Regions from separate parts of the Homo sapiens genome. Here region 1 is linked to region 2. The links come from fine-mapping of genetic effects on gene expression. A gene starts in region 2. The other region holds a variant in brackets. All regions are shown on one strand. Distances are from middle to middle.

Region 1 (5,000 bases), 59 kb after region 2:
GGCGCGGTGGCTCACGCCTGTAAGCCCAGCACTTTGGGAGGCCGAGGTGGGCGGATCACGAGGTCAGAGGATCGAGACCGTCCTGGCTAACATGGTGAAACCCTGTCTCTACTAAAAGATACAAAAAATTAGCCGGGTGCGGTGGCGGGTGCCTGTAGTCCCAGCTACTCCGGAGGCTGAGGCAGGAGAATGGCGCGAACCTGGGAGGCGGAGCTTGCAGTGAGCCGAGATCGCCCCACTGCATTCCAGCCTGGGCGACAGAGCAAGACTCCATCTCAAAAAAAAAAAAAAAAAAAGAAAAGAAAAAAAGAAAAAAAAAGATGTTTTTAAATATTTATCTTTATTTTTATTTTTTTAAAGACAGGATCTTGCTCTGTCTCTAGGCTGGAGTGCTGTGTGTTTATAGCTCCCTACAGCCTCAAACTCCTGGGCTCAAGGGATCTTCCTGCCTCCGCCTACTGAGTAGCTAGGACTACGTGCCTGGCTAATTTTTTATTATTTTCATTTTTTTTTTTTTGTAGAGAGTTCTTACTTTGTTGCCCAGGCTGGTCTTGAACTCCTGGCCTCAAGCGATCTTCCTGCCTCAGCCTCCCAAAGTGCCGCGATTACAGGCATGAGCCACTGCTCTGGCCCTAAGTAAATATTTTGTACTTTGTTGATCATATGGTCTTTGTTCCAGCTACTCAATCTTCCATTGTAGTATAGAAGCTGTTGTAGATGATACATTAAATGAATGAGTGTGGCTGTGTTCCAATAAAACTTTATTTATGGATACTGACACTGAAATTTGAATTTTATATAAGTCATGTGTCATAAAATATTCCTTTTTTTTTTTTTTGAGGCAATATCTCACTCTGTTGCCCAGGCTGGAGTACAGTGGTACAATCTTGGCTCACTGCAGCCTCAACCTCCCAGGCTTAAGGAATCCTCCCACCTCAGCCTCTTGAGTAGCTGGAACCACAGGCACGTGCCACCCAGTCTGGCTAACTTTTTGTAGAGATAGGGTTTCGCCATGTTGCCCAGGCTAGTCTCAATTCCTGGGCTCAAGCGATCCACCCACCTTGGCCTCCCAAAGTGCTCGGATTATAGGTGTGAACCACTGCGCCCAGCCTGTTCTTCTGATTTCATTTTAACCATTTAAAAATGTGAAAACTGGCCGGGCGTGGTGGCTCATGCCTGTAATCCTAGCACTTTGGGAGGCCGATGCGGGCGGATTGCCTGAGCTCAGGGGTTCTAGACCTACCTGGGCAACAAGGTGAAACCCCATCTCTACTAAAATACAAAAAATTAGCCAGGCGTGGCAGTGTGCGCCTGTAGTTCCAGCTACTCGGGAGGCTGAGGCAGGAGAATTGCTTGAACCTGGGAGGCAGAGGTTGCAGTAAGCTGAGATCGTGCCACTGCACTCCAACCTGGGCAACAGAGAGAGACTCTGTCTCCAAATAAATAAATACATACATACATACATACATACATACATACACATACATGTATATATACATATACATATATGTATATGTAAAAGCCATTCTTAGCTTATGGGGCTGTACAAAAATAGACAGCAGGTCAGATTTGGCCTGTGGGCCATAGTTAGCCAGCCGCTGGTTCAAACCAATTACCCTTAATGTAATTACTGATATGGTTAGGTTTAAATCTACCAACCTGCTATTTGTCCCATCTGTTCTTTGTTCCCCTTTTCCTCTTTTTCTACCTTTAGGGGGTTACTGGGACTTTTCTTTTCTTTTCTTTTTGAGACAGGGTCTCACTCTGTCACCCACGCTGGAGTGCAGTGGCACGAACACGACTCCTGGGCTCAAGCCATCCTCCTGCCTCAGCCTCCTGTGTAGCTAGGACCATAGGTGCGCTCTACCATGCCCAGCTAATTTTTTAAATTTTTTGTAGAGACCGGATCTCACTTCATTGCCCAGGCTGGTCTCAAACTCCTGAGCTCAAGCAATTTGCCCACCTTGGCCTCCCAAAGTGATGGAATTACAGCGTGAGCCACTGTGCCTGGCCTGTTGGGATTTTCAAGATTCTGCTTATCTCTACTCTTGACTTGTTAACTGTACTTCTTTGTTTTATTTTTCTTAGTGGTTTTCTGGGTTTGCAATATGGATCTTTAATTTATTACAAAATACTTTTTTTTTTTTTTTTTGAGACGGAGTCTCGCTCTGTCCCCCAGGCTGGAGTGCAGTGGCGCGATCTCGGCTCACTGCAAGCTCCGCCTCCCGGGTTCATGCCATTCTTCTGCCTCAGCCTCCCGAGTAGCTGGGACCACAGGCGCCCGCTACCACGCCTGGCTAATTTTTTTGTATTTTTAGTAGAGACGGGGTTTCACCATGTTAGCCAGGATGGTCTCGATCTCCTGACCTCGTGATCCTCCTGCCTCGGCCTCCCAAAGTGCTGGGATTACAGGCGTAAACCAC[C/T]GCACCCAGCCACAAAATACTTTCAAGTAACATTATACCATTTCACGTAAGATATAAGACCTTGACAACATGATATGTTCCTCTCACCCTCCCGTCCTTTGAGCTCTGCATATCTTATGAACCCCACAATACATTAGGGGTGTGTGTGTGTGTGTGTGTGTGTGTTAGATAGTAAATGCTGGGTGTGGTGCTCACGCCTGTAATCCCAACACTTTGGGAGGCCGAGGCTGGAGGATTCCTTGAACCCAGGCGTCCAACACCAGCCTGGCCAACATAGCGAGACCTCATCTCTACAAAAACTAAGAAACATTAGCCAGGCATGGTGATGCATGCCTGTGGTCCCAGCTCCGTGGGAGGCTGAGGTGGGAGAATTGCTTGGGTCCAGGAGGTTGAGGCTGCAGTGAGCTGTGTTCACGCCTCTCCACCCTAGAGCAGGACCCTGTCTCAAAAACAAAACCAAACCACTAAATGCTTCGTAAGGAAATTTGAAAGTGAGGAATATATCTTTTCTATTTACCCACAAATCTACCATTTGAAGAGGGTGCCCTTCACCCCTTCTGGTACATCCACGTTTCTATCTGGTGTTGTGTTTCTTTTACCTGCAGAACTTCCTTTAATATTTCTTGCTGTGCGGGTCTGCTGGCAATTAATTCTCCCAGCTTTGGTTTTGTATGAAAAATGTGTTAGTGTGTCTTCTTTGAGGGATATTTTTGCCTGCTGTGGAATTCTAGGTTGACAGTTTGTTTTGATTTTTCTTTCAGCATGTTGCATCATCTTTGGGCTTGCACACTCTCTGACAAGAAGTCGACTGGCACTGTTATCTTTGATTCTCTGAATGTAATATGTTTCCCCCCTTCTAGCTGCTTTTAAGATGTTTCTCTTTATTGCTGGTTTTCAGCAATTGATTATAATGTGTCTTGGTGCGTTTTATAAATATGTGTGTTTAGCCTACCTGGGGTTTATGGAGCTTACATCTGCAAGTTTATGGTTTTCATCAAATTTGAAAAGTTGTAGGCCATTACTTCATCAGACTTTTTTTTGGTTATCCCTTTCTCTCCTCTCTTTCTGGAACTCCAGTCACATAGGTAAAGCCACTTATTTCTCAGGCCATTGAGGCTCTGTGCTCATTTTCATCACTTTTTCCTTTCTGTGCTTTATTTTGGATAGATTCTATTGCAGTTCTTCAAATTCTCTAATCTTTTTTTTTTTTTTTTTGAGATGGAGTTCCACTCTTGTTGCCCAGGCTGGAGTGCAGTGGCGTGATCTCAGCTCACAGCAACCTCCACCTCCTGGGATCAAGCAGTTGTCCTGTCTCAGCCTCCCAAGTAGCTGGGATTACAGGCGTGCACCACCATGCTCGGCTAATTTTGTATTTTTAGTAGAGATGGGGTTTCTCCATGTTGGTCAGGCTGGTCTAGAACCCCTGAGCTCAGGCAATCCGCCCCCATCGGCCTCCGAAAGTGCTAGAATTACAGGCCTGAGCCACTGTGCCTGGCTTTTTTTTTTTTTTTTTTGAGACAAAGTCTTACTCTGTTGCCCAGGCTGGAGTGCGGTGGCACAATCTGAGCTCACTGCAACCTCTACCTCCCAGGTTCAGGCAATTCTCCTGCCTCAGCCTCCTGAGTAACTGGGATTACAGGCATGCACCACCACACTTGGCTAATTTTTGTATTTCTAGTAGAGAAGGGTTTTCGCCATGTTAGTCAGGCTGGTCGCAAACTCCTGAACTCAGGTTATCCTCCCTCCTTGGCCTCCCAAAGTGCTGGGATTACAGGCGTGAGCCACCGCGCCCAGCCTTTTTTTTTTTTTTTAAAGATAAGGTCTCAGCCTGGCCAACGTGGCAAAACCCCATCTCTACAAAAAATACAAAAATTATCTGGGCATGGTGGCGGGTGCCTGTAATCCCAGCTATTCAGGAGGCTGAGGCAGGAGAATCGCTTGAACCCGGGAAGCGGAGGTTGCAGTGAGTCGAGATCGCGCCATTGCACTCCAGCTTCAGCTTGGGACAGAGCGAGACTCTATCTCAAAAATAAATAAATAAATAAAATAAAAAAATAACGATAAGGTCTCACTTAGTCATTCAGACTAGAGTGCAGTGACGACCAGGCTCAGTGTAGACTTAAACTTCTGGCCTCAAGTGATCCTCCCACCTCAGCCTCTCAAGTTGCTGGGACTGTAGGCAGGCACCACCACACCCATCTAATTTTTTTATTTTTCTGTAGAGACAGGGTCTGGCTATGTTGACCAGGCTTATCTCAAAGTCCCAGCCTCAAGTGATCCTCCTGCCTCGGCCTCCCAGTGTGCTAGGATTACAGGCATGAGCTACTGTGCCTGGCCCAAATTCCCTCATCTTTTCTGCTGCCGGTGTCTAATCTGTGTAATCCCTTTCAGTAAAATTTTTCTTTCAGATATGTGTATATCATTCTCTAAAAGTTCTGTTCACTTCTTTTTATATCTTCTGTTCCTTTCATTACGTTCATGTTTTTCTTTATACTCTTGAGCATTCTGAATGTATTTATAATAGCTGTTTTCATGTCCTTGTCTGCTAATTCCGTCATCATCTATGTCAATTCTGGG
Region 2 (5,508 bases):
ATTGCACTCCAACCTAGGCAACAAGAGCGAAACTCCATCTAAAGAAAAAAAAAAAAGAAAGAAAGAAAAAATAAAAGAAAAGAAAACCTGGCCGGGTGCAGTGGCTTGCGCCTGTAATCCCAGCACTTTGGGAGGCCGAGGCAGGCAGATCACGAAGTCAGGAGATCGAGACCATCCTGGCTAACATGGTGAAACCCCGTCTCTACTAAAAATACAAAAAAAGTTAGCCGGGTGTGGTGGTGGGCGCCTGTAGTACCAGCTACTCAGGAGGCTGAGGCAGGAGAATGGTGTGAACCCAGGAGGCAGAGCTTGCAGTGAGCCGAGATCATGCCACTGCACTCCAGTCTGGACAACAGAGCGAGACTCCATCTCAAAAAAAAAAAAAAAAGAAAAGGAAAAAAAAAGAAAATTTGAGGATCCAGGTAACTTCTCAGGCCTTTTGCTTGGACTTCTCAACTTGATTTGGGTGGTGCAGGTCTCTTTTCTCCAGATCATATAGGAATAAGCTGAGGATAAGCTGAGGTCTTTCTGGAGGTGGTAGTGCAGGACTGGCTGGGATTTCCGGGACAGGTTGAATTTAGAGGGGATGGTGGTTGGTTTTTGTTTTTTGTTTTTTTTTTGGAGATGGAGTCTCGCTTTGTCTCCCATGCTGGAGTGCAGTGGCATGATCATGGCTCACAGCAACCTCTGCCTCCTAGGTTCAAGCAATTCTTGTGCCTCAGCCTCCCAAGTAGCTGGGACTAAAGGAGTGTGCCACCGGGCCTGGCTAATTTTTGTATTTTTAGTAGTGACGGGGTTTTGCCATGTTGGCCAGGCTGGTCTTGAACTCCCAACCTCAGGTGGTCCACCTGCCCCGGCCTTCCAAAGTGCTGGGGTTACAGGAATGAGCCACCGCCCTGGTCGAAAGGATGGTGTTCTGTGTTGAGGTCCTTCATAAGCAAAGTCCCAGAGGCAGGTGTGAATCTGGGCTTTTAGGCCTGACTGGAGTTAAGTGTGGATGTTTGAGGGGGCGGTGTAGATGTTGACCAAGTGGGGTAAGGAGGTGTGTGCAAAGTTGGTGGTCCTTCAGCGTCAGATATATGTGTCAGATGTGTGTCCAGGATGCCCCACATGCCAGCTTGCAGAGGGCTTCCTGTGCTGGGCTGGCATGTGGTCCAGGAGTTGCCATGTGCCAGCTGTGTGTTCGAGGCATGCGGTCACATATGCTGTGGGCCGCACGTGAGTGTGTCAGTGTCTCCTCCCCATCACGAGCATCGGGGGTGGTGGTGAGTCACGGGCTCAGCCTTCGGCGCCAACTGTCATGTTTCTTCCCCCCAAATTTCACCCCCCACCCAGCCATGCACCACCCACCCCCACTCCAAGATCTGTGTCGCTTCTCTCTTCCATCCCCCTGTCCTGCTCAGCTCCTTCTGAGAGGCTGCAGGGTGTTCCCTGGGAAGGAGTCTCCCACTTCTGGCTCTGCCCTCCAGCTTCCTCTCCTTGTCCCATCCACCTTTCCCACTGCCTCTCTGCTCCTGTGACTAGAGAATGAGGGCCCCTTCTCTCCACCCACTCATCTCTGTGGGTCCCAAGGATTTCTCTGTGCACTATAGGGAATTCTCATACTCACCACCCATCCCCTCACCTCTATAGGAGCTATTTATATTGGGGGAGGCTTGCCCCGCATCTCCAGGCTGGCAGCTCCTGCCTCAGTGGCTCTCTTGTGTCTATGAGCCACATCCTTGTCTTTTTGGTACCCTGGTGTCTGTAGGCCTCCCTTGTTTCTGTGACCTTCTTCGGCTCTCCTTGGCTCTCTCCCTGCCCTGTGGACCGCTCCCCATATCTGAGGAGTGCTTTCTGTTTCCAGGGGCCTCTCTCTTGTGTCTCTGGCTTCTCCCGTTTTCCTTCGCGGGAGGTCTCTATGTCCACATTACTGCCCCTTGTCTCCGAGGTCCTTTTGCTTGTCTCTGTAGGCTGCTCCCTTGTCTCCATGGGCCTTTCTTTCTTATCCCTGGGCTTTTCCTGTCCTTGTCCTTGTGGGGTTTGTGGGCCTCAGCCCACTTCTCTGGACAGTCTTGACGGCTGTCTCTCTTCTCTTCATTTCTCTTCATCTCTGTAGCCCTCTCCCCTCATCTCAGTGGCCTTCTCCCTGGGTCTTCTTGCCTCTCATCTCTGTGGGCTCCTGTGCCCAGGGCTGCCTGGGCAGGGCGGTGGCATGGTGTGGTAGAGGGGGTGGCTCGGGGGTGGGCCTTCCATCCAATGCAGCTCCTTCTTCTCATCAGCATTCTCCTCGCGGGGGGCCCCCAGCCCCAACCAATACAGGCTCCCCCTCCCCCGACTCACCTCCCTACTCTCTCTTTGCCTGCCTCCCTCCCTTCCTCCTGCCCGCCCTCCTCCCTGCCTCCCTCCCTCCCTCTTCTCTCTCTCCTGAACCACCCCACTGCGCTCCAGGACCCAGCGCAGGCGGCAGGCGGGCAGGCAGGCGGCGGCCTCGGAGGGGAGACTGAGCGGTGGCGGCAGCCAGCGGCAGGGAGGCAGGCCCAGCCGGGGACTGGAGCCGGGGACTGGAGCCGGCTCCTCACAGGGGACCAGGAGTGTGTCGCCAGGCCCTCCCACTGAGGCCCAGCACCGGGAGCCCCTGGGACACCCCACCCTCCTCCGCCTTTCTCTTCCACCTGCTCCTCTCCATCCTCCTCTCCCTCCTCCCTATCTCTCCACCTCATTTGCCCCCTTCTTGGCCTCTCCGGGTCTCCCAGCTCTCCATCCTCCCCAGCTCTCCACTCCCGGGCTCTCCCCGCCCCCAGCATGCTTTTCCCGTGGGGGCTGAGGGCTTGAGGACTCCGGGCCCTTGCCTCAACCAGGGCAGGGCCCAGGCTCCAGGGGGGAGGGGGAAAGGGGGCGGCCCCCTCCCCCAGCAGGCCCTCCCCTCCCCCACTTCTCCTGATGGCCGGCTTCCTTTTCTCCACCCAGTCCTCGCCCCCTGTGGCCCCCCCAGGCCGGCCCGGCTAGGGGAGGGGGCGGGGGCCCTTTCCTGGGCCAGCTTCCCCCTCCCCCGGCTTTGCCTGTGCCCCCCCCTTCCGTTTTCACCTTCCTCTCCTCCTTTCCTCCCTCCTTCCCCTCCATTTGCTCCTTCCCCCTCTCCTCTCTCCCCTTCTCTCCTCCATTTTCTCCTTTCCCCTTCCTCCCCTCCCCGGCCCGCCCTCTCCTCTTCCACCTGTCCTTCCTCCCTGCTCCTGTGGAGCCACCGTTTTGGATTAGTTGGGAGCCACCACCGGCGGCGGGGGAGGGGGCCCTGTGGACTGCCCTCTCCCCCCGCCCAGCCCCACCACCACCCAGCGCCAGAGCACCTCCCGCTGTCGGTCTTCGGGCCTCGAGGGAGCCCAGCCCTCCGTCCCACCAGGATCCGTGAGTGTCTGCAGGGCAGGGATTGGGCTGGGTTCTGGGTCCTGGAAGGCTGGGCTCTGGTGCCGCCTGGCAGGGGGGCACCACATTCTCCCCGTTCTCCGGACTGGCAAGTACCCTCCCCCACTAGGGGCCTGCTCTGCGCCCTCCATCTCCTCAGCGTCCATTCACCTCGACCTCTTCTCACCTCTTCTTCTGGGTACATAGCTCACTGCCGCCCCTGGCCCTCTAGCTTTCTGGGGTCCTACGGGGCTGATTGCTCTTACTTGGGCTCTCACTTACCCCGGGCCCCTGGCATGTCCGTGCCCCTGCTGTCTCCAAGCCTCCGTCCTGGTCCCAGACTGGCTCTTTCTGTTCCTCTGAGCCTCATCCTCTGCCTGCGGTGGGCCTTGGCCCTGTCCCCACCCCGTCCAGTCTCTATCTCCTGGATATGTCTTTCCGCTTTTGAGCCCCCATTTCCTGTGTCTCTTGGGCCCCTCTCTGACTCTGCCCAACTTCTCTCTTTGCTGTTAGCCCAGGTTGCTCTCGGCATGTCTCTGTTTAGATCCCTCTCTCTGTCAGAACTCCTCCACCCTGGCTTCCCTCTTTCCAAGTCTCCCTCGGCAGGTCTCTTTCCATTTCTCTTTCTATTCTGTGCCTCCGCTCACCTGTCCTCCTCCCTCTCTCTGCCTCTGAGCTTGGAGGCTGTCTTCCCTCTGTCACTTTTCCACCTCTTTCCCCCAGATCCACTCTGGGTGCCCGGCTCCTCAGTCCCTCCCTCCTCAGCTGCTGCCCCACCTCTCCGTGGTCCATGCTGACTTTTCCTGGCTGGTCTGGCTCTTTCCACTCCCATTCTCTCTCCCGACTTCTGTGTTACCTCGCGTGGCCTTTCTGCTCCCATTCCTCTCCATGTCTGGGGGCTTTCAGGCCCCAGGATCTCCTGCTCCCCCACACGGCATTCCTGAGTGTCTTGGGGTGGCTATGCCTCTGTGTGGGTCTGGCCTCTCCTGCAGGTGCTTGCCCTGTCCCTGCCTGTGCCCCTCTAGTGCACTCACTCCATCTCCCCACCTCAGTTTCCCTCCCTGACTCCCCCTTTCTCTCTCCCAGGTGCTTTTCCCCCTTGCCCCTTCCTCTTCTATGGGCCTGTCGTGCAGCTCCGACATACTGTCTCTCTTTCCGACTGGCCCTCTCTCTTTGTAGAGTTTGGCCATTTCTTTCCTTCTCCCAAGTCTTGTACCTGCTGCTGTTTCTTTATCTCCCTTTGCCTTCTCCCTCACCCTGTGTGCCTTCGCTGGCCCTCCTTGCCTCTCACCTTTGCTGATGTCTCTCCTATGCCCACTGTTGCTCAGCTCTCTGCTGGGTTTTGACTTTTATCTGGCTTTGCCCAGTCTCTGGGGCTGAGTCCTGGACCTGCCTGACACCCTACCTGCCCTGTCTCTGTCTCCTTTGCTGTCTCACTTCTAGGCTGTGTCTGTCTCTTGCTCTCTCACTTAGCCTCAGTTCCTACGTCTTGGGCTGTCTTTCTGTGTGTATCTCTGTGTCCACCTGCTGCCCCTCAACCCTGTCTTTCTCTGTCTGCTCCCACCTTTGGCTGCCACCTGTGGGTCCCTGTCCTTCTGTCCCATCTCTCCCTCGGTCTTTCTGTCCTTTGTCCTCTGCTCCCTGATTTGCCCCAGGAGTCCCTGGTGTCTCAGGATGACCCACTCCACTCCTGCCTCTCTCCTAGCTCCGCCCTTCACACTCCTCCCACTCTGAGCGCTCCTCCGGGTCTCCCAGCATCCCTTGTGCCTCCATCCTTGACAAGCCTTCACCTTAATCCACATTATAGTTTGCAGTCCCCAGCCTGTCCAGCATACCCTCCCACCTAGCACTCTCTTCTTCTCAGAGGCCTAGAAGGCAGTGACTTGCTCAAGATCACGCAGTGAGTCAGGGGCAGAGCTGGGACTGATCCCCAGCCTAGGTTTTGCAGGCCACTTGAGATGGTGAGAAGGACTTGTGCCTCTATCCTTCCCTCGAAGTTCTCATTCCACAGTTTCACCAGCTCAAGCTGTCCTTCCATGGGGACTGAGTGGGGTCCGGTGTCCAGGCCCACTTCACAGCATTCTGTGCCCCCCACAGTAACCCTACTCCATGGAAACCCAAGCATCC

What was found. PIP is the estimated chance that this variant, and not a neighbour inherited with it, causes the effect.
Region 1: its variant is the best candidate, but not a certain one, in a credible set for the expression of GRIK5 in whole blood (TOPMed, PIP 0.77).

What each region holds. Positions count from the first base shown.
Region 1 is chr19:42,008,705-42,013,704 of GRCh38, reverse strand. The region is part of intron 15 of GRIK5 (glutamate ionotropic receptor kainate type subunit 5); the gene reads left to right. Among named protein-coding and RNA genes, the nearest start is that of ATP1A3, 17 kb to the right of the region's middle. The variant C/T (reference allele first, on the strand shown) is at 2,424.
Region 2 is chr19:42,067,117-42,072,624 of GRCh38, reverse strand. It overlaps GRIK5 (glutamate ionotropic receptor kainate type subunit 5), which reads left to right and starts at 2,419. Exons shown (of 20, transcript NM_002088.5): 1 at 2,419-3,384. It also overlaps a transcript of ZNF574 not described here.